Homo sapiens: one gene and its partner. The protein of the gene in region 1 purifies or fractionates together with the protein of each later gene. This does not show direct contact. Each region holds a gene or a part of one and is shown in the gene's direction. Other genes may lie near its edges.

Region 1 (10,241 bases):
CCTGCGGTGAGGACTGGCTGTAGGAACCTGTGGGTGAAGGGCCTCCAGGATCCTGGCCACCCCTAGCCCGTCCTGCTGAAGCACCCATCACCTCCACCAAGCCCTCAGTAACTCTCATCCCCGTTTTTCCCAGTAGACACATCCCCCACTGCTTCTAGGGCGGTGGTTCTCAAAAAGACAAGTTCCCTACCCCAGACCTGCCCACTAGGACTATCTGGGAATTGGCCCTTTTTACAGATTCCCAAAGAGTTTCTTCTACAGGTGGGCCCTGTCTGCTTTGACCCACACTGACACTGAACTGCTTAGGGAAAGAGGCCTGGATGTGGCCATCTGTTCTCTGTCTCCCGGTTGCTGATGGTCAGAGATTGCTAAATCTTTGGATGCTGTGTCCTGCTTGAACACGTACTAAGTTTCTGTTTTTTGGCTGGTTTCCTCTGTTTACTTCTTTGGCCTTTTTGATGACAATTCAGCCCTTCCTTTTCTTGACCCACAGGAAGAGGTCAAGAGCTATTGGCCTCCACCCTTTTGTTCCTCAGCACCAACCCAGCCCCCTTCTCCAATCTCTGCTTGGTCCTGCCTAGCAAGGAATCCCAGCACTTTGGGAGGCTGAGGCGGGGGGAATCACATGAGGTCAGGAGTTCGAGACTAGCCTGACCACCATGGTGAAACCCTGTCTCTAATAAAAATACAAAAATTAGCTGGGCCTGGTGGTGCATGCCTGTAATCCCAGCTACTCAGGAGGCTGAGGCACGAGAATCCTTTGAACCCGGGAGGCGGAAGTTGCAGTGAGCCGAGATCGAGCCATTGCACTTCAGACTGGGCGACAAGAGCGAACCTTCATCTCAAAAAAAAGAAAAAACAAAATAGTGCCCTAAGCCAGGGGTCAGGGAGAGGTTGCGCAAGAAACCAAGGAGACCCTTGGGAGCAAAAGAAAGGTGAGTGGGGGTGGAGGGTTGAAGGTCGGGCTGACTGTCTTACCTCTCTAGGTCTTGGGTGGTGCCTATGATGAGTTCATCTTTGCTCCTCGGCTGGACAATCTGCACAGCTGCTTCTGTGCCCTGCAGGTGAGGAGCCGGGGCGCCCCAGGCAGCACATAACCACCAGCAGAGGTGGTATGTTTGGGGTCGGGGGAGCTGCCTAAAGCCCCAGCAGGTTGTGAGAGAGGGCCATTGTCTACCCGCTCAGTCTGCTGGTGCTGGATGGACCAGGAGGGGGCCCTAAATGTTGCAGCCTCAGCATCGCCACCTTTGGTCTCTGCCCTTGCACTATCAGGGTGTTGAGGCAAGAAGAAGGAGGAGAAGTTGTTTCAGGCACCATGGTCTCTTGTCCTAGCCTTGCTCCTGCTGCTTTTCCTGAAGTTAACAACCTCTGCCTCAGGGAAAGGCTTTATCATCCACAAGGCAGTATCATCCACCTCCTTCTGCTTCCTACGCCACTCCCCAGGCTTAAGACCCCAGCCTTCTCCCTGTTTCTTGGGATCTCAGTCAGGTAGCCTCTCTTCCTAGTCACCTTGATATTCCCCACCTTCTCTCCACCCTAGTCAGTTCCCTTTCTTTCTCTCCTCTTGCCCTTGATCTCCCTCTGCCTTTTTCTGCCTTTCCTTCCCTGTAATCCTGTGGCTGGAGATAGGCTTTGGGCTGTAATTGAGACCAGAGCTGGACCTGGGACCTGCATCTACTTCTGCAGGCAACCAGCCAGTCATGTCACCTTGATGGAGTCTGTCACCTCTTTGAACCTCAGTCTTTTCCCTGAGGCCAATCAGTTTATGTGATGTGTGTAGCCTTTTGGCTTTCCAGGACTCTCAGCTCTTCCTCTCTGTCCTCCACATCTTCTACTGCCTTTTGCATGGGAAGGTAGAGAACAACACCCAAAGGATGGTGTCTCCTGTCCCAGTTGAAAAGGTTTCTACCTAGCTATTGATCTGGCCAAAAAAAAAAAGAAAGAAAGAAAAAAAGAGAAAAAAAAGGTCCTCACCACACCTTAAAGGTTTCTACCTATGTAGCTATTTATTTGGCAAGAAAAAAAAGGTCCCCACCACACCCTCTGCCAGGCAGTGCCCTAATTGATAAAAGTCATGGCCATGGAAGGCAGACAGGGGAATGTGCACACCCAAGGTGCTGGTGGATGGGGGAGCGTGCACACCCAAGGTGCTGGTGGGCTGAGTTCCAGCAGAAGCAGGTTGGAGATGATGCTCTCATTTCCTTCCCTGAACCAGGCCTTGATAGATTCCTGTGCAGGCCCTGGCTCCCTGGCCACAGAGCCTCACGTGCGCATGGTCACACTCTATGACAACGAAGAGGTACGTGGAGGGTTCTGGGGAGGGTCACCTCTGCGGAGTCTTCCACAGCCAACTTGTTGTGCCAGGCATCCACCGTGAGCCAGGGCTCTTCTGGGGGCCCCAAGACAGGGGAGATGCTGCCTGTGCCTCCTTAGCACTTGGTGTCTCCTCTGACTCAACATAGATCTGCTTATTCGAGGGTGACCGTCTCTCCTGTATCTCTCTTTGTGCCACATGGTGAGCTTCTTCCTTTAGGACAGGGACTCTACCCAGCCCATCCTCGTAGCCCCAGGGCTCAGCACAGAGTAGGTCCTCATGATGCCTGCGTGTGTGAGGCTGCAGTCTCAGCTGCATAACAGAGCTTGAACAGCTAGTGCTCTCTCATGTAACAACCCAGGTCAGAGTTAGCAGTTTAGGAGGGGTCCCTGCCGTCCTGAACACATGACTTCCATTTCAGGATTCAGGGTGGCCGTTCCAGCTCTGGCCATCATGTCTACACTGAGTTAGTAGGAAGGGAAGAGAGGGCAAAGGGGCAGTAGACACCCCCTGGCTTTAAGGGCATGATCCAGAAGTGACATTCATCACTGCTTACATTCCACAGAACTTAGCTGCAGGGGAGCCTGGAAATGTCATCTCTAGCTGGGTAGTTAAGTGCTTAGCTACAACTTGGGTGTTCTAAAAGATATCATGGACAGTTAGCAGTCTCTGTCATACACATAAAAGAAAATTGACCAGTGTGGTGGGGCACCTGTGCTGAGCCCCAGATGTGAGGGTCACGAGAGGAGGAAGGGGAGCAGTGCAGGAAACCCACCAGTACTGTTAAGAATGTGAGTTAGTTTGGTCTCAGCCCACTGTCTGGTGTTCAGTGACGACCCCAGGTTAGGGGTGTTGCTAAGAACACCCAGTGACTCAGTGGGGTTTTGGGCCAGTTGGGCAATGGGCCCCTCTCACTGGCTTCCAAGATCAGGCCCCTAAGCCCAGATTCCCAGAGTCAGGACTCTACTGTCGCCAGGTGGGGTCTGAGAGTGCACAGGGAGCACAGTCACTGCTGACAGAGCTGGTGCTGCGGCGGATCTCAGCCTCGTGCCAGCACCCGACAGCCTTCGAGGAAGCCATACCCAAGTCCTTCATGATCAGCGCAGACATGGCCCATGCTGTGCATCCCAACTACCTGTGAGTCTCTAGTGCCAGTCACACAGTCTTCACATAGCTGGAGACCCAAGCATAACCTGCCTTGAGGCTCTGCCTTGGCCCCAGCCTCTTCCTTTCTCCCTTCTTCATTCTGCCGGGAGGTTCACGGGCACTTCCTTTTCACTACTGCGAGACCAACTTGGTCAAAGTCATGCAATGCCTAACCCAGGTGTGTGGAATACACCTTTGTCTACAAACTTGTTTCCATCTATTGCTAGAGGCTGCCCGGAACCCTGTGTGTGGAATGACTCTGAAGTCCCACTGGGCTGGGCGGGAAAGAGTGGTGATCTATTAGTGATGTCTGCCATGGGAGGGTGGTGAGTGTCGACAGGCCTGCTCCTGTTTGCTATGTCTGGCCCTTATCTGTCTCTTACAGGGACAAGCATGAGGAGAACCACCGGCCTTTATTCCACAAGGTGAGACGTGCCATTTCTCCCTAGGGACTTGGAGGTCTGGCTGTTCCGAGCGCCGACTCATTCCCTTTGGGCCTGTCATTACCTCTGCCTCACCTTGACTCTCCCCAGGGCCCCGTGATCAAGGTGAACAGCAAGCAACGCTATGCTTCAAACGCGGTGTCAGAGGCCCTGATCCGAGAGGTGGCCAACAAAGTCAAGGTCCCCCTGCAGGTGAGGGTGGGCCCTGCCTGGGAAGGTGTGATGGAGGGAGCTTGGTGGGGGCACAAACAGATGGGCCCCCCATGAACAGGGAACCTGGTAGATGGCCTTGAGTGGAGGGGGGTCCCAGTAGAGTGAGAAAAGCAGGGATTTTGGATACAGCTGGATTCCATGCTGGCTCTGCTGCAGTGCTAGCTGTGTGACCTTGGACTAGTCTCCTAACCTTTCTGAGTCTCAGTTTCCACATCTGTAGAATAGGGGTGATAGTGATGCCTACTTTGCTGGATTTCTATGAAGACTGAAGGTACAGTGTGCTCCTGGCACATGGTAGGCCTGTCTTTCCCTGCAGCACCCCCACTTCCCCTGTGTCTCCTACACACCCTGGGGGCTTCCACAGGGAAAGTTCAGGGCTGGGGAGTATGGAACTCCAACTACTCATTTTCTCTCTTGCCTGAGAAATTAGACATCTAGTCCTTTCTCCTCAGTGTGTGTGTGTGTGTGTGTACATATATATGTTGTATACATGTATGTATATAACACATGACAGTATTGTGTATACACATATACACACATATATACTGTCATGCATTGCTTAACAACAGGGATACATTCTGGGAAATGGCATCATTAGGCAATTTTGTCATTGTGTGAGCATCATGGAGTATATGTACACAAACCTAGACGGACAGCCTGCTGCACACCTAGGTTGTGTGGTGTAGCCCATTGCTCCTAGGCTACAAACCTGTACGGCTTCTTACTGTGCTGAAAACTGTAGGTAACTGTAACAAAATGGTCAGTGTATCTAAACATAGAAAAGGTACAGAAGGCCAGGCGTGTTGGCTCACACCTGTAATCCCAGCATTTTGGGAGGCCAAGACAGGCAGATCACTTGAGGTCAGGAGTTCAAAACCAGCCTGGCCAACATGGTGAAACCCCATCCTACCAAAAAATACAAAAATTAGGCAGGCGGAGTGGTGCATGCCTGTAGTCCCAGCTACTTGGGAGGCCTTCCCTACTTGGGAAGGATCTCTTGAGCCCGGGAGGTGGACGTTGCAGTGAGCCGAGATCGTGCCATTGCACTCCAGCCTGGGCGACAGAGTGAGACCCTGTCTCCAAAAAAACAAAACCAAAAAAAAAAAAAAAAGAAAAGAAAAAGAAAAGTTACAGGAAGCATATGGTATAAAAGATTTAAAATGGTCCACCTGTATAGGGCACTTAGGAATGGAGCTTACGGCACTCGAAGTTGCCCTGGGTGAGTGGTGAGTTAATGTGAAGGCCTAGGACATTACTGTACACTATTGCAGACTTTATCAATGCCGGACACTTAGGCTACACTACATTTATTTTGAAAATTGTATTTCTTCAACAATAAATTAGTTTACTGTAACTTTTTAACTTTATTTATTTATTTATTTATTTATTTATTTTTGAGATGGAGTCTCACTCTGTCACCCAGGCTGGAGTGCAGTGGCACGATCTCGGCTCACTGCAACCTCTGCCTCCCAGGTTCAAGCGATTCTGCCTCAGCCTCCTGAATAGCTGGGATTACAGGCACGCACCACCATGCCTGGCTAATTTTTGTATTTTTAGTAGAGACGGGGTTTCACCATGTTGGTCAGGCTGGTCTCGAACTCCTGACCTTGTGATCCGCCCGCCTCGGCCTCCCAAAGTGTTGGGATTACAGGTGTGAGCCACTGCACCCGGCCAACTTTTTTACTTTATAACCTTCCATTTTTAAAATTTTTGACTCCTTTGTAACAACAGTTGGCTTAAAACACAAACACATAGTACAGCTATTCAAAAGTATTTTCTTTTTTGTATCCTTATTCTGTAAGCTTTTTTCTATTTTTAAAATTTTTCGTTATTTTTAAAATTTTTAAACTTTTTGGTTAAAAACCAAGACACAAACATACACATTAGCCTAGGCCTATACAGGGTCAGGATTATCAATGTCCCTGTCTTCCACCTCCACATCTTGTCTCACTGGAAGGTCTTCAGGGAGAGTGACATGCAGGGAGCTGCTATCTACCATGATAACAATGTGCTCCTAAAGGACCTGCCTGAGGCTGTTTTACAGTTAACTTTTTTTTTTTTTTCTAATAAGTAGGAGTACATTCTAAAATAACAGTAGGCTGGGCATCGTGGCTCATGCCTGTAATCCCAGCACTTTGGGAGGCCGAGGCGGGTGGATCACTTGAGGTCAGGAGTTCAAAACCAGCTGGCCAACATGGTGAAACCCCGTCTCTACTGAAAATACAAAAATTATCTGGGCATGGTGGTGTGCGCCTGTAATCCCAGCTACTCAGGAGGCTGAGACAGGAGAATCGCTTGAACCCAAGAGGCAGAGGTTGCAGGGAGCCAAGATGGTGCCATTGCACTCCAGCCTGGGCGACAAGAGTGAAACTCCATCTCAAAATAAATAAATAACAATAAAAAGCATAATATAGTAAACACATAAACCATAACATAGTCATTTATTATTCTTAGGTATTGCATACTGTACATAATTGCACGTGTTATGCTTTTATACGACTGGCAGTAGATTTATTTACGCCGGCATCGCCACAAACAAGTGAGTCATGCATTATGCCACAACATCGCAACAGCTGTGATGTCACTAGGCGACAGGAATTTTTCAGCTCCATTATAATCTTACGGGACCACTGTCATATGTAGTCTATCTTTGACTGAAATGTCACCATGTAGTGCATGACTGTCTATTTCTATATTTATCTGTCTACCTCTCTATATCAGGGACTCAGGCATGGGCGGTCCAGTGACAATCATAGCAGGTGTAGAACCGTGGTATCCTGACTCCCAGCCCAGGGCTCTTTCTGCTGCACAGTGTTCACTCTTCCTTTCGGAAAGCTGAATTGTTCTGCCCCCAGGAAGCCTTCTCTGAGGACGTGATATTTGAGCTGAGACCTAACCACTGAGAAATAGGCAGCTATGGGAGGGTCCCAGCCAGAGGGCACAAGTAGAAAGGCCCCAAGGGGGGCCAGGAATGAGCTCGTCTTTTAGGAGGAGAGAAAGGCAGGATGGTAGAGCCAGGATGAGAGCAGGAGAGGGTTAGGGGAGAGGCCCAGCTCAGTGATGATACAGGAATACCTAGGCCATGGAAGGACATTTCAATTTTATTCTAAGGCAGTGAGAAGACATTGGGAGATTTTTCTTTAATAATTTACAGCAGAAGTAGGACACATGTATTTTAGAAAATTAGAAAATACAGATAGAGATGAGAAAATAAAACACTAATCTGCAGAAATTTGGTATAGTCTTCCAGATTTTTTTCTATGCATAAACTTCATATACACTTTTTTAAAATGATATTATATTGGATATATTTTTGTTGCCTCTTTTCACTCAGTCATCTTCACCTTTCTATTTGAGTTTGGTTTTTTTTTTTAATGTTTTTTTAAAATTAGAAACAGGGTCTTGCTTTGTCTCCCAGGCTGGAGTGCAGTGGCATGATCATAGCTCACTGCACCCTCAAACTCCTGAGCTCAGAAGATCTTCCTGCCTCAGTCTCCCAAGTAGCTGGGACTACAGATGCATGCCACCATGCTGGCTAATTTTCTATTTTTAGTAAAAATGGGGTTCTTGCTATGTTGCCCAGGCTGGTCTTGAACTCCTGGCTTCAAGCAGTCCTCCCACCTTGGCCTCCCAAAGTGCTAGGATTACAGGCATGAGCCACCATTCCCAACCCCATTTCAGGAAATTGTTGTTTCAGTAAACTTGTACCTCATCTAATGCACAGATCACTTTCCGTTTTCCCCAGTTATCCTCAAAATATTTTTTTTACAGGTATTTGGCCCACCCTAGTATCCAACTCAGGACAATGCGTTATATTTGGCTGATATGTTGCTTAAATGTCTTCCAGTGTAGCACAGTTCCCCCCACCCCTTTTTAAATAGCATTGGCTTATTCAAGAAACTTCTGGATATGTCTCCTTGCTGCCCCATGGTGTCATTTAGCTTGTCTGTAAGCCCCGTATTTCCTATCAACTGGAATTTCTAAAGACTTGATGGATTCAAGTTAAACTTTTTTTTTTTTTTTTTTTTTTTTTTTTGACAGAGTGAGAGTTTCACTCTGTCGCCCAGGCTGGAGTCTAATGGCGTGATCTCGGCTCATTGCAACCTCCGCCTCCCTGGTTCAAGTGATCCTTCTGTCTCAGCCTCCAAAGTAGCTGGGATTACAAGTGTGCACCACGATGCCCAGCTAATTTTTGTATTTTTAGTAGAGACAGGGTTTCACCATATTGGCCAGACTGGTCTTGAACTCCTGACCTCAAGTGGTCCGCCCACCTCAGCCTCCCAAAGTGCTGGGATTACAGGTGTGAGCCACCGTGCCTAGCCTCAAGTTAAACATTTTGGGCTAGAAGACATGGCTGGTGTATTCATATGGCATCACACACATGATATCTGGGTGGGCCACCCTTAGCCTTGCAAAGATTGACCACTGGACCAGGAATGGCCTCTTATCCTTTCATTATATAGTGCTTTTCCCCTATTGACCTGACAGTGACCCATACAAGTGATGAGTTCCCTATTAACCAGATACCTAATGGTTTTAACACTTACAATAATCCTTGTCTAAATCAGTAATTTCATTAGAATTTACCGAAAAATGCCCGCTTCCCCTGAATTCTTTCAGTCTTCCATTCTTCTGTGAAGTGGAACTTCTTCCCTCCAATCAACTAGGGTTCTTTGGTTATCATGGAATATCATTCCTATTGATTGGAAAGCAGGATAAATGCTAATTCTTTCTGTTATCCACTTTTCAAGGTGAAATGTCGTCTCAAATAGTGACAAAGAAAGATTTTTCCTTTTCCTTTTTTTTTCTTTTTCTTTTTTTTTTTTTAGACAGGGTCTCGCTCTGTTGCCCAGGCTGGAGTGTAGTGTCGCAATCTCAGCTCACTGCAACCTCCTCCCCACAGGTGCAAGAGAGTCTCATACCTCAGCCACCTGAGTAGCTGGGATTACAGGCATGCACCACCATGCCCGGCTGTTTCTTGTATTTTTAATAGATACAGGGTTTCACCATGTTGGCCAGGCTGGTCTTGAACTCCTGGAATCATGTGATCTGCACACCTTGGCCTCCCAAAGTGCTGGGATTACAGGCGTGAGCCAGCACACCTGGCCTGCTTTTCCCTTTCTGACTATCTTAGAATCATGGAATTTCATTTATTCAGTGTCCTCTATAATTATTATATTTGATTTGTGAATTGCCATGGCTTTGACCAGTGGGAGCCCCTTCAGCATAACTCCTGTGCCCTTTGACTCTTGGAAGTCTCCTTGCTTTTTGGCACAACAAAAATTGTAGACATGTCTTGTTCATTTCGCCCCCCAGACTTGGTAGTTTTTGGCAAGCAGTGGTATTAGAGACCATAGCCTGGCACTGCAAGTGTTCATTGTTCTTGGGGGAGGGGACGGTGCTTTGGGTCCATTTCCATGGACATAGCAAGAAAAAAGTACATATTTTAAAAATCATGAAGCCAGGTGTGGTAGCTCAGGCCTGTAATCCCAGCACTTTGAGAGGTAGTGGATCACTTGAAGTCAGAAGTTCGAGAACAGCCTGGCCAATATGGCAAAATCTCGTCTCTACTGAAAATACAATAATTAGCTGAACGTGGTGGTGCGTGCCTGTAATCCCAGCTACTTGGGAGGCTGAGACAGGAGAATCGCTTGAACCCAGGAGGCAGAGGTTGCAGCGAGCTGAGATTGCGCCACTGCACTCCAGCCTGGGCATCGCAGGGAGACTCCATCTCAAAATAAATAAATAAAATAAAATAAAAATTTTTAAATAAAAATCATGAGTTAATACTGTAATTCTTATTCATAAAATTATTCTTATTTAGTTAAATAGTTACTACCTATTTGATTTTGTAATTCTGTTTTCTCTTACACTGAAAACCTTGATATCTAGCATCATATTTTCATTTTCTTATTTTTTTACCATAATATAAAGAAAATCATTTCAAAATGTCAGTAGCAATATTTTTAAAGACACTGATACCACTGAGTGATTTTTTTCTGTGAGTGTGGATATTAAGCAAGAGGGTGACAAGGATGGATACTTTTAAAAATCCCCCTTCCTGCTGTGTGGAGAATGGATTGGAACTAGGGTGGTGGCAATGCAGATAGAATGGGACCAATTCA
Region 2 (11,651 bases), on another chromosome or scaffold:
AACTAATTGTTATTATTGTGTGTTCTTTTGTTGAGCTGAATCCTGTTTCCTTTATTTTCTATTAATATACACTGACCCATGTTTTGCTTTCTGAAGCAAGGAATCAAATTTACTCCGCTATCTTTAGAGATGTAGCTTTTCATTATTTGAAGACAGGTATCATTCTTCCCCTTAGGTTTATTTGCTTCAGATGAAGTACACTTTTTTCCAACTGTTTCAAGACTTCTCACCATCCTGTTTGGCTCTTTTGGGATGCCCTTTTTATTGTTAATGTCTTACCTTGTGGCACCCAGAATCCCAGGTGTATTCCAGGTGTGAATTTCCAAGAATATAGTTAAACTATTATTTTTTCTTATTTAAACAGTATCTGTCTCTGTTAACATACCTAATAATGTATATGATTTTCTAAAGGAAGAATATTAGTTTTATAAATTTTATGGTCAATTACAATGGTAGATTTCACACATACTGATTGATAGACTGTTTTTCTATCTCATAGTAAGAGAAGGAGTTAAAGTAACAATGTTTAAATGTTTAAACTTTTTATAAATATTGAGATTTTCTTAATATGCTCTAATGAAAAAGCAGTAATTTATATGTATTTAACAGCCTGAGATGGTAATATCAGATCTTCAGCAGAGCATCTCTGACACGTTATCCATCTATTGATGTACAATTGAAGAATGTATTTTTCTTTTAATAATTAATGTTCTCAAGTATTCTACTTTAAGTATTAAAATTGCAAAAGAAAACATGCAGTAGAATATGTTTTATTGAATTGACTTTTTTGTTTTCTTTGAATACTCAGTTATTTTCATAGTATCTTTAGTGGGTTTTAAAATATGTTTCCACCTGTTTTTCCTTTTAGTTCTCACGTTTCAGAATCTGTGAACAATTCCATTTTTCATCAGATAGCAGAACAACTACAACAGCAAAACCTAGAACATCTCAGACAGCAGCTCTTGGAGCAGCAACAGCCTCAAAAGGTTTATAACCCCATCTTGTGGTCTTTAGAGTTATTACTATTTATATTCTATAAATTGGCATTTTTGTGGGTTGGCTTTTTTTTTTTTTAATTGGTCTTAATAGAATATTTTCTCAACTATTTAGCTTTTACCAGCTACTTTATTTCTTTCTAAAGTTTGTTATGGTGATATTTTTTCAACTCTTATTAGTAAGACCATTTTTTTCAGGACCTTTATGGTTTTTTCTGTAATCAAATTGTGTTCTGGTAACTTATGAATGCACATTGTAGAAATTAATTTCAGTGTACTGGAAGTAGAGAACAGGATGGAGGGGGTTTCAGAATTACCACTTAAAACTAAACGTGTTTTTCTCTCTGTTCCCTATCAAGCAAGTTGATGATTATGTTAATGGTGACAATGATGATGGCCATGTAGATTGCTATCTTTAATTTTTAAAACGTATTTGCTGTTAGCATGTAGCAGGAGCTTTATTAGGTATGTGGTAGGCTTGTATACATTTAACCCTCAGGCGATGGGCATTATGACTCCCATTTTATCCCAGAGGAAGTGGAAGCTTGGTGAGATTAAACATCTCATGCAGCAGTGTACAGCTAGTGTTATATATTATCTGACTCAAGATGTGCGGTTATTTTATGCATAGCTAAGAATTTTAAAACATCGATAACTAAATGTAACATCCTTTTGAGTTGTAAGGATCCTTTAAGTTCATCTTACGAATTTGATAATCTTTGACAAAATATTGCACCTTAGAACTGATAAAATATGTTAAGTTGTAGAGCTAGGATTAAATTTATTTCAAAGCCTTTTTCTGCTGTATGTGAGAAATGGTTACGCATGTAAACTGTTCAGAATAAAAGTATTAGGAAACCCCCTTTCCCTCCCCAGCATACATCCTAATATTAAAAAAGTTTTGGCATTAATGAGTTTAACAAAAATATCACAAAATATTTTTGAGTATGTGTTACTTGTTAGGCAAGTGTTACATACAGAGATGAACAGAAATGAGGTTGTGGCATCAGGTAACCTCTTCTCTAATGGAGCACGTACATCTGTATGAACACCTGGCAGAATTCTTTATTTTTGTCATAGAGGTACAGCTGAAGGATTCTAGGAGCATGGAGGGGGGAACAGTTATTTTAGATGGAAGAGATAGCAAACTTGAGACATTGGGGTCTGAACTTGACTTTTTAATGCAAACAGTAATATAAAATGGATGTTAATGATATTTGCTGCATTGGAACTCATGCCTAGAATTATGAGAATGGAATTTCATACCTTTTTTTTGAAGAAACAATTCTGATATAAGTGGCCAGAGTAGGGGCAGTATTTTATGTCAAGCAAATGTATCTGCCTGAGAACCCAGAAGTTGAAGATAGAACACAATTAAGAACATTTAGATGTTGTTTAAAGAAAAAACAAAGTTGTAACTCAAAACAAACAGCTCGTCAGTGATGTAATAATACAAAAATCACAGAACTGCTAAGAGAGGCAGGAGGTAGTCGTGATGGAAGAATTTATCCAAACAACAGATTTGTTGAGCTATAAATGTAACACTTTGTGAATTGCTTTAGTCATAGTTTCATTTTAGAAGGTTTAGCAGAAGCACTGTAATCGTAGTACTTTATGTTTTTAATGGTCTCTCTCTTAGCAGAATCAAGTAGTCTTAACAAGCTTGTAATTAGCACCATGTTATTGAAGTAAAAATAAACTTGAGAGAGAGCGAGTCTGTTGTAAGAATCTCACCTACCAAAAAGAGAGAACTCTGGGCTTAGTTAATTACTCTATATATCAGTTCCAAAATTTCACAGCTTAGAATAATAAGATCCCTTTGAAAGGAATAGAAGTTCTGAAAAACCTCATTGTTCAAAAATGAATCTAATGAAGAAAAGAGAGTGGTAAAACTAGAACTGTTTTTATAAGGTAGATAGTATAAAACCTATGAGAGATTTAGAATGCAGATCTCGGCTCACTGCTACCTCCGCCTCTCAGGTTCAAGCAGTTCTCTGCCTCAGCCTCCTGAGTAGCTGGGATTACAGGCATCCGCCACCGTGCCCTGCTAATTTTTCTGTATTTTCAGTAGAGACGGGTTTCACCATCTTGGCCAGGCTGGTCTTGAACTTCTCACCTCGTGATCCACCCGCCTCAGCCTCCCAAAGTACTGGGATTACTGGCGTGAGCCACTGTGCCTGGCCTGTTTTTTCTTTGTAGCATTTTTTATTAATGCCAATTATCAGTGAAAATCTAGATTCATTTAACTGACTGCCATTATGTATTTTTCATGCTATAATTTATTTATTAGTCCTCTGTAGTTTATATTTTCACAATTGAAAATTTACTTGATTTTACCATTTTAATATTTTAGTCCCTTCCTTTTATGGAGCTGTTCTCTGCTTTTATATAAAAATGAGTTTATACAAATGTTTAATTTTGGATTGATTACTTTATAAATGATTTAACATGGAATTTCTTTTATGTATGGCTCATGTTTTTAAACATGTAATTGTGATGTTTGCTGTGTTTACATTTTCATTCATAACAAAAAGTATCTCCCAATCTTTGTGTGTTTGTATATGTTCTCAATAGGCCACTCCTCAGGATAGTCAGGAAGGAACCTTTGGGTCAGAGCATTCAGCGTCACCATCACAAGGGAGTAGTCAGCAGCATTTTCTTGAACCTGAAGTCAATTTGGATGATTCCATAGATATTCAGCAACAGGTAAAAGTAAATGTTTTTCTGGGTCATAAATTTCTAAAAGTAGCTAAAGAAATCATAAAATATTTTATACTAGCAGTGCCCTGAATATATTTTTCCCACACTTAAGCTCCACTTTGTAATTGTTTCACCTATTAGGCCAAGCTTGTCCAAGGCCTAAGCATGGCCCCTAGGCCAAGCACATGGCCCAGAACTGCTTTGAATGCAGCCCAACACAAATTTGTAAACTTTCTTAAAACAATATGAGATTTGTTTTTGCGATTTTTTTTTTTTTTTAAGCTTATCAGCTGTCATTAGTGTTAGTATATTTTACGTGTGGCCAAAGACATTACTTCTTCTAATGGGGCCCAGGGAAGCCAAAAGATTGGACACCCCTGTATTAGGCATTAATGCTCCCATCGTCAATATTTTTAAAAACAGAATTGTCAATGTATAACTCTGTCTCAACCAGCCTTTCTGTTTGTTTGCTGTTCTTTTGACTTTCAAGGATATGGATATAGATGAAGGGCAAGATGGAGTGGAAGAGGAGGTCTTTGAACAAGAAGCTAAGAAAGTGGCGGTTCGCTCAAGATCAAGAACACATTCACGATCTCGTTCAAGGTTCTACAATGATATTTAATAATAGCCGTGTGTGAACTTTAAAATGTTGGCTTTATTTCTTTGCATCAGGATGAAAGGAAATGTTTCCTTGGGATGACATATTTTTTCTCAGTCTCTCGGAAAAAAAGTTATTCCAAAAACAAGATAACCTTTGTTCTGTTTTAATTGGTATATCTGTGGCTATTTATTTCAGTAATTTACATAAGATTGGCAGCCATATCATGAGACAGGGATTTTGAATTATATTTTATTTTAGTTAATATTATGATGACACCCAATTTAGAATATTGTTGCCCCTGAACAACAGTTAAGTCAGGCCATATTTCCTGGATTCCACTCATCTCACAGTGATACCAAAAATGGTTATAAAAATGAAACTACAAAATTTATTTTTATAAACATTAACTGTAATACCAAACCGTTAGGAAACAGTTTTCTTTATGAGCTTAACTTAAAGACATCAGTCTTTAACATTTTTGTATCCTATTTTTTGCGTATGAATGCCCCTGAAAATCTGAACAGTAAATGGTGTAAGAGGGGCAGTACGTTTGATGAGTTTTTCAGTCATTTCTTTTTCTTGTCACAAAGTTCTTTATATTTATCTATTGCAAATGAGAGCCTGTCAGTTCAACTTTCTCTAAACCCACCGCGTATCACTGAATTATTTTCCTGAAGCATTAACAATCTTAATGCTGAAGATATCTTCATTTGTCATTAGCAGCATCTTACTAAGCATTTTGAAGAGAGCTCAATGGCATGTGGTTGACAGGCAAAAAAGAAAGTGTTTCAGTGTCACCTTCTACAAGCACCATAAAATTTTATAAGTTGGAAACTACTAAGCAGAATTATGTAGTGGCCTAATGCTCTGACACTTAAATGGTCTTTTAATTTTCTTTGGTCTTTCATTCCTGTTCTTCTGTTTGAAAAATGAGTTGGAATGCACTAAGAGAAAGTGAGGCCCTTTCTAGAATCTTTTTCCTCTTCATTGTGAATAGTCACCCATACTCAGAATCATTGCCAACTAATATGGACCTAAGCAGCACACGGATTTAAGTAAAATGCATTTTTGAGACTTGATTTTACTTCAGAATATTTTAACATATTGTCACTAAATATAAGACAACTTTTTTGTTATTGTTTTTTCCCTCACTTAGAAGTGACAGATTTGGTAGAAAGAAAACATTGTCATTAGAAGTAAAATGAAAATTTTTTGTAGATCACCAAGAAAACGAAGGTCTAGGTCACGGTCTGGCTCTAGAAAGCGTAAACACAGAAAGCGATCACGCTCCCGCTCAAGAGAAAGAAAGAGGAAATCATCACGGTCGTATTCAAGTGAAAGGAGAGCCAGAGAAAGGGAGAAAGAACGACAGAAAAAGGGATTACCTCCAATTAGATCTAAAACACTAAGTGGTAAGTAACATATATCTGCAACGCTTTGGTTTCAATTAATATTTAAAAAATAGTTATCTGCTACAAAGTCTCTCAGCCAAATTTTATTTTCAGATTAAGGTTAAAAGTGGTTTGGTAAATGAGTAATGTCTCTGGTTTTTGTAACATGATAGAGAAGAGAAGAAGAAGGAAGAACAGATTCCATTCAAATACCAAGGTCATTGAGGGTTGATTTTTTGTTTGTTTTTCAAATGCAAGTTAGAAAATACATATTGACTGAAAAAGCAGACTAGGCTGGTATCTGTAGCATGGACACAGTGACTTCTGTCTATAGTATTCTTAGCAATTATGGCCACCAGGTCTGTAGGAATAATTATTAAAGGAAGCATATACTTAGCTATATCTAATTTTTAAAGTAATTATAATGTTAATGGGTTAGCACTACAGGATAATTCCTACTGTACAAACCTTGCACGGTTACATGTTAGTCAATTACGTATGATTAGAACAGATTCGGTAGTGGTGGGGTTTGGTTTTGGAGCAGGTGTGGGGAGGGTTCACTTGGTAGGAATGTTAAGCACAGCAAAATAAGTTTTAATTAGTGCCAAATTTTGCCTAGGGTATTCTTGGTGGGTTATGACTTTTAAGATGAACTAAGAGTTTACATATGGGCAAAGAAGTACATAAAATCGAACAAATTGTCATTCTTTCCAAAGAGCTAAACATTGATTGTGTTATCTAATTTCTGAAGACTTCCACGTAAATTCCCTCTGCCAGGGAGTTAGAAAAATAATTGGTATAATTTGTGCTACTAGAGCGTCTTGGAAACCCAGGCCTATAATAAAAGGCAATAGCCATCTTCTTACTAAGTTTTGGGAGTTCTTGTAGGCCTTGGCTATCTTGCATGAATTTTACCTGGTTGTGAGAGCTAGTGTCAACCTGATAATATTGATTATCCTTGCTCTAGAAGTTTGTTTGTCCCTTAGGGTGATGGTATACATCTAAACATTTTAGTGCTGGCTGATAAAAGAAATAATGTCAAACGTTTAACCACAAAAATCTCTACTGTGCTTTCTCGCATGATTACCATTAAGACGTTCAGAATTATCTATTTATTTGCCATTATTAGAGTAAGGATTTTATATGGAGTCGCTCTCATTTAATTTCTCACTTAATTTGTCATGTTGTTGATTTCACTGTTTACACAGTTTTTTTTTTTTTAACCATTTAATTTTCTATTTCATTTTCCTTTAAGTTCTGGGATACATGTGCTGAACGTGCAGGTTTGTTACATAGGTACACAGGTGCCATGGTGGTTTGCTGCACCCATCAACCCGTCATCTAAGTTTTTTCTTTTTTTTAAATTATACTTTAAGTTCTAGGGTACTTGTGTACAAAGTGCAGGTCTGTTACATAGGTATACATGTACTATGTTGGTTTGCTGCACACATCAACTTGTCGTTTACATTAGGTATTTCTCCTAATGCTACCCTTCCCCCAACCCCCCATCCCCCTGACAGACCCCAGTGTGTGATGCTCCCCGCCCTGTGTCCAAGTGTTCTCATTGTTCAATTCTCACCTATGAGTGAGAACATGTAGTGTTTGGTTTTCTGTCCTTGTGATAGTTTGCTGAGAATGGTAGTTTCCAGCTTCATTCATGTCCCTGCAAAGGACATGAACTCATCCTTTTTTATGGCTGCATAGTATTCCATAGTGTATATGTGCCACATTTTCTTAATCCAGTCTATCATTGATGGACATTTGGATTGGTTCCAAATCTTTGCTACTGTGAGTAGTGCCGCAGTAAATACGTGTGCTGTTTACATAGTTTTTAACTGTGGAATTTATTTTTTATTTCTGTTTTATTTTCATGGGCACAACAAACAGCAAAAAAGAAAATAAAAAGCACGTGAATAAAAAACGCATAACCAAATACAGGCATACCTTGTTTTATTGCACTTCACTCCATTGTGCTTTGAAGATACTGCCTTTTTTTTTTTTTTTTTTTTTTTAAATAGGTTGAAGGGTTGTGACCACCCTATGTTGAGTACCTCTCTTGGCACTATTTTTCCAATAGCAGGTGCCTACTTTGTCTCTATGTCAGCTTTTTTTTTTTTTTTTTTTTTGCAAAAAGTATTTTAAAATTAGGGTATGTACATTTTTGTTTTTAGACATAATGCTGTTGCACACTTAATAGGTTACAGTGTAGTGTAAACATATCTTTTGTGTGCACTGGGAAGAACAACTTATGTGCCTTAACCTTACTGTGATATCTGCTTTATTGTGGTGGTCTGGAACCAAAGTTGCAGTAGCTCCAAGGTATGCCTATACAGTGAAAAATAATCTCTGATTGTTTACCTCACAACTCTCCTTATTCAAAAGCAGTATCAATTTCCTGTGGTTTGTATTCTTTCTTAACACATTTTAAACATATGGTAGTGTTTTCATACGATTTATTGGTCTTTAGCATGGATTTTAGAACATAAGGTTTTCGTGAATAGTCTAGGGGATATAAAGCACCAGTGAATAATAACATTCCAGGAATCAAGTGTCCCTTCTGCATGGGATGACAAGAATCATTAATGCTTTCTGGGGAAAATAATGGAGTTTCCTATGGGAAAAATGTGTAGAGAGATAATATTGAAAGAGATGGGAAATACAGAACAGAGTTCAGGGAGATTAAGGCAGCTGGAATATGCAGAACCAGTAATAAAGAGGAAAAAGAGAATGCCAGGTGCAGCGGCTCACACCTGTAATCCAAGCTACTTTGGGAGGCACAGGCCAGCAGATTGTTTGAGGCCAGGAGTTTAAGACCAGCCTGAGCAACAAAGTGAGATGCCATCACTACCGCCAAAAAAAAAAAAAAAATTAGTTCGGCAAGGTGGTTCACACTTCTGTAGTCCCAGCTACTCAAGAAAGAGGTGGGAGAATCACTTGTGCCTAGGAGGTTGAGAAGCTGCAGTGGGATATGATTGTGCCACTGCACTCCAACCTGAGGAACAGAGCAAGACCCTATATCAAAACAAAACAAAACAAAAAACAGAAGAATCCTTAAGGCTGAGTATACTGGCTCAAACCTATAATCCCAGTACTTTGGAAGGCCAAGGCGGGAGGATTGCTTGAGGCCAGGAATTTGAGACCAGCCTGGGAAGAGCAAAACCATGTCTGTACTAAAAATAAAAACTTAGCCAAGCATGGTGATGGTGTGCCTATAGTTTCAGCTTTTGTGGAGGCTGAGACAGGAGGAGGCCTTAAATCCAGGGAGTAGGAGGCTGCAGTGAGCTATAATTAGGACATTGCACTCTAGCCTCAGCCTGGGTGACAGAGCAAGACCTCGTCTCCAAAAATAAAGGGGCGGGGGGATCTTTTCCATGACAGAGCCCCAGACTTCTGTTAAGGTTTTGTGGTAGATTGGATAATGGCCCCCTAAAAGGTATCTACATTTAAATCATTGGGATTTTTAAATATGTTACATTGTATGGCAAAAGGGACTTTTCAGGCCCTTTTAAATTAAAGATCATGAGGTGGGGAGATGAACCTGGATTATCCAGAAGGCCCAGTTTAATTACACGGGTACATAAGAGGGAAGCAAGTACGTTGAAGAGAAAAGGTGATGTGATAATGAAAGGAGAGAGAATTTGGGAAATGTGGAGGTGGTTTTGAAGACGAAGGACGGGACCATGAGCCAAGGAAGGCAGGCAGCTTGTAGAACCTAGCAAAGGTAAGGAAACAGATTCTCCCCTAGAGCCCTCTAGAGGGAATGCGTACCTGCTGACCCATAGTAGATCTTCAGAACTATAAGAGAATATATTTGTTTTATTCTAACTTCATGTTATTTTGTTATAGCAGCAATAAAAAACTGTTACAAGGCTAGGCATGGTGGCTTGCCTCTGTAATTCCAGCACTTTGAAATTACTTGAGACCAGGAGTTTGAGACCAGCCTGGGCAACGTGGTGAAACCACATCTCTGCTAAAGATACAACAAAAATTAGCTGAGCATGATGACGCACACCTGTAGTCCCAGTTACTCGCGAGGCTGAGGATCACTTGAGCCCGGGAGGTGAAAGTTGCAGAGAGCTGAGATCGCATCACTGCACTCCAGCCTGGGCAACAGAGTGAGACCTGTCTCAGAAACAAACAAACGAAAAACAAACCTAATGCAGAGCTCCTTGAGACTTTGGTTGAAGATTAAATTGAATATGCATAGGGTAAGACTTACAGGAGATAAACAGCTTGCAGGGAAAGAACAATGACCAGGGACTCTGTGTTAGCTAAGTGATTCCTAAAGCTTACACAGGTCTAGAAGATGTTAGAGTTCTGACTAGCCAGAGTGGAGAGACCTGGTTGAAAAGCCTAGGGCACTCAGTAGTGATCTTGCCAAGGGTACCTTCATGTGGGGCTAAATTAGCCATAGAGTAAAACCTGCCTGAAACCTGTCTTATTATAGATCAAAGGTAGCCAGAAATGTGGACATTGACATAAATCCAAATATAACATATGAAAATTCTGCAAAGGTGTCAGCTATAAATATTTTTTAAATAAATGTCTTCTGTAAAAGGAGGCATTCGTGGAGGCATGAACTGTACAGCTGAAAGTAGGCAAGGTGTCTCATGTTTAATATTTGTTAAGGGGATGTGGCTTTCAACAGTTAAGTATCTTTAAGTCTTTCAAGGGGTTAAGGGGTTCTGATTTGGCCATTTTCCCTTTGTATCTTCCCAGAAAGGATTGTTTCCTTAAGGATAAGATGCTGTTTTTAGATTTATCTCTTGATTAGGGAGACACATTCACTTAATCCTTCCAGTACAGAAAGACGCTTAAAAGGTTCACAGGCCGGGTGCGGTGGCTCACGCCTGTTATCCCAGCGCTTTGGGAGGCCGAGGCGGACAGATCATGAGGTCAGGAGATCGAGACCATCCTGGCTAACATGGTGAAACCCCGTCTCTACTAAAAATACAAAAAATTAGCCGGGTGTGGTGGCGGGCGCCTGTAGTCCTAGCTACTCGGGAGACTGAGGCAGGAGAATGGCATGAACCTGGGAGGCGGAGCTTGCAGTGAGCCGAGATTGTGCCACTGCACTCCAGCCTGGGCGACAGAGTGAGACTCCGTCTCAAAAAAATAAATAAATAAATAAAAGGTTCACAAATGGGATTACGGTGAGAAGTGGGTTTGAAACTTTGTTGCACATTAGAATCACCTAGGGAATTTTACAACTCTCAGTTCCTGTCTTTGACACTGCATGCCACTCATCCTCTTAGAATGGGACCCTGGCATCCACAGATGGTTCAGGTGTGCAGCCAAGCTTGAAAACAGGTGACATGTAAGTGGTTGACTTGGCAGAGATGTGAATTAATACTTGTGATTTTAGTTGTTTTTAAACATAACAGATGCAAGTGTTCATTGACAATTATTTTTAAATATATTATCTTAAATTTAATTATTATGTGTATTACTGCTTTTTCCTCAATTACTTTTCAAAGAAGTAACTATGTCTAAATGATTTAGGTCATTTGTCTCTTGTGTCTTGACAGTATGTAGTACTACTCTCTGGGTTGGGCAAGTGGACAAGAAGGCAACACAGCAAGACTTAACCAACCTGTTTGAAGAGTTTGGACAGATTGAATCCATTAATGCAAGTATCAGTTCTTAATAATTTAAGGTTTTAAAAAAGGAGGTTTTTATTAATACAAAGAATCACTTCTGTTCCTAATTAGCCCAGTAATGTCTGCCTTAAATAATACACATCTTTAAAAGGATTGCTTTACTTTGATAATGTCTGTGTTTATTTTGGTGCTGTTTCTCTCCTTAATTATTTTTATTTTTTAGTGGAATTCTAACAAAATGTTCTTGAGTTTTATAGCAGTGTACCATGCTTGATTCCTGACATCATCAAATGTTTGAGTTAGCAGGAACCCTATGTGTGGTCTGGTTTAATTCCTTTTTTTAAAAAACTGTCTCTGAGGAAAT

Evidence for each region.
Region 2: the proteins of DNPEP (region 1) and SCAF8 purify together in Homo sapiens (affinity purification with mass spectrometry; 2 studies listed by BioGRID and IntAct, with this or other methods). This does not show direct contact.

What each region holds. Positions count from the first base shown.
Region 1 is NC_000002.12:219,375,189-219,385,429, reverse strand, and holds part of DNPEP (aspartyl aminopeptidase), read left to right. Parts: coding exon 1-6; intron 7-986; coding exon 987-1,064; intron 1,065-2,215; coding exon 2,216-2,299; intron 2,300-3,290; coding exon 3,291-3,451; intron 3,452-3,845; coding exon 3,846-3,885; intron 3,886-3,993; coding exon 3,994-4,095; intron 4,096-10,241.
Region 2 is NC_000006.12:154,804,501-154,816,151, forward strand, and holds part of SCAF8 (SR-related and CTD-associated factor 8), read left to right. Parts: intron 1-868; coding exon 869-986; intron 987-3,569; coding exon 3,570-3,701; intron 3,702-4,185; coding exon 4,186-4,298; intron 4,299-5,514; coding exon 5,515-5,708; intron 5,709-11,215; coding exon 11,216-11,316; intron 11,317-11,651. UniProt on the Homo sapiens protein: Anti-terminator protein required to prevent early mRNA termination during transcription. Together with SCAF4, acts by suppressing the use of early, alternative poly(A) sites, thereby preventing the accumulation of non-functional truncated proteins.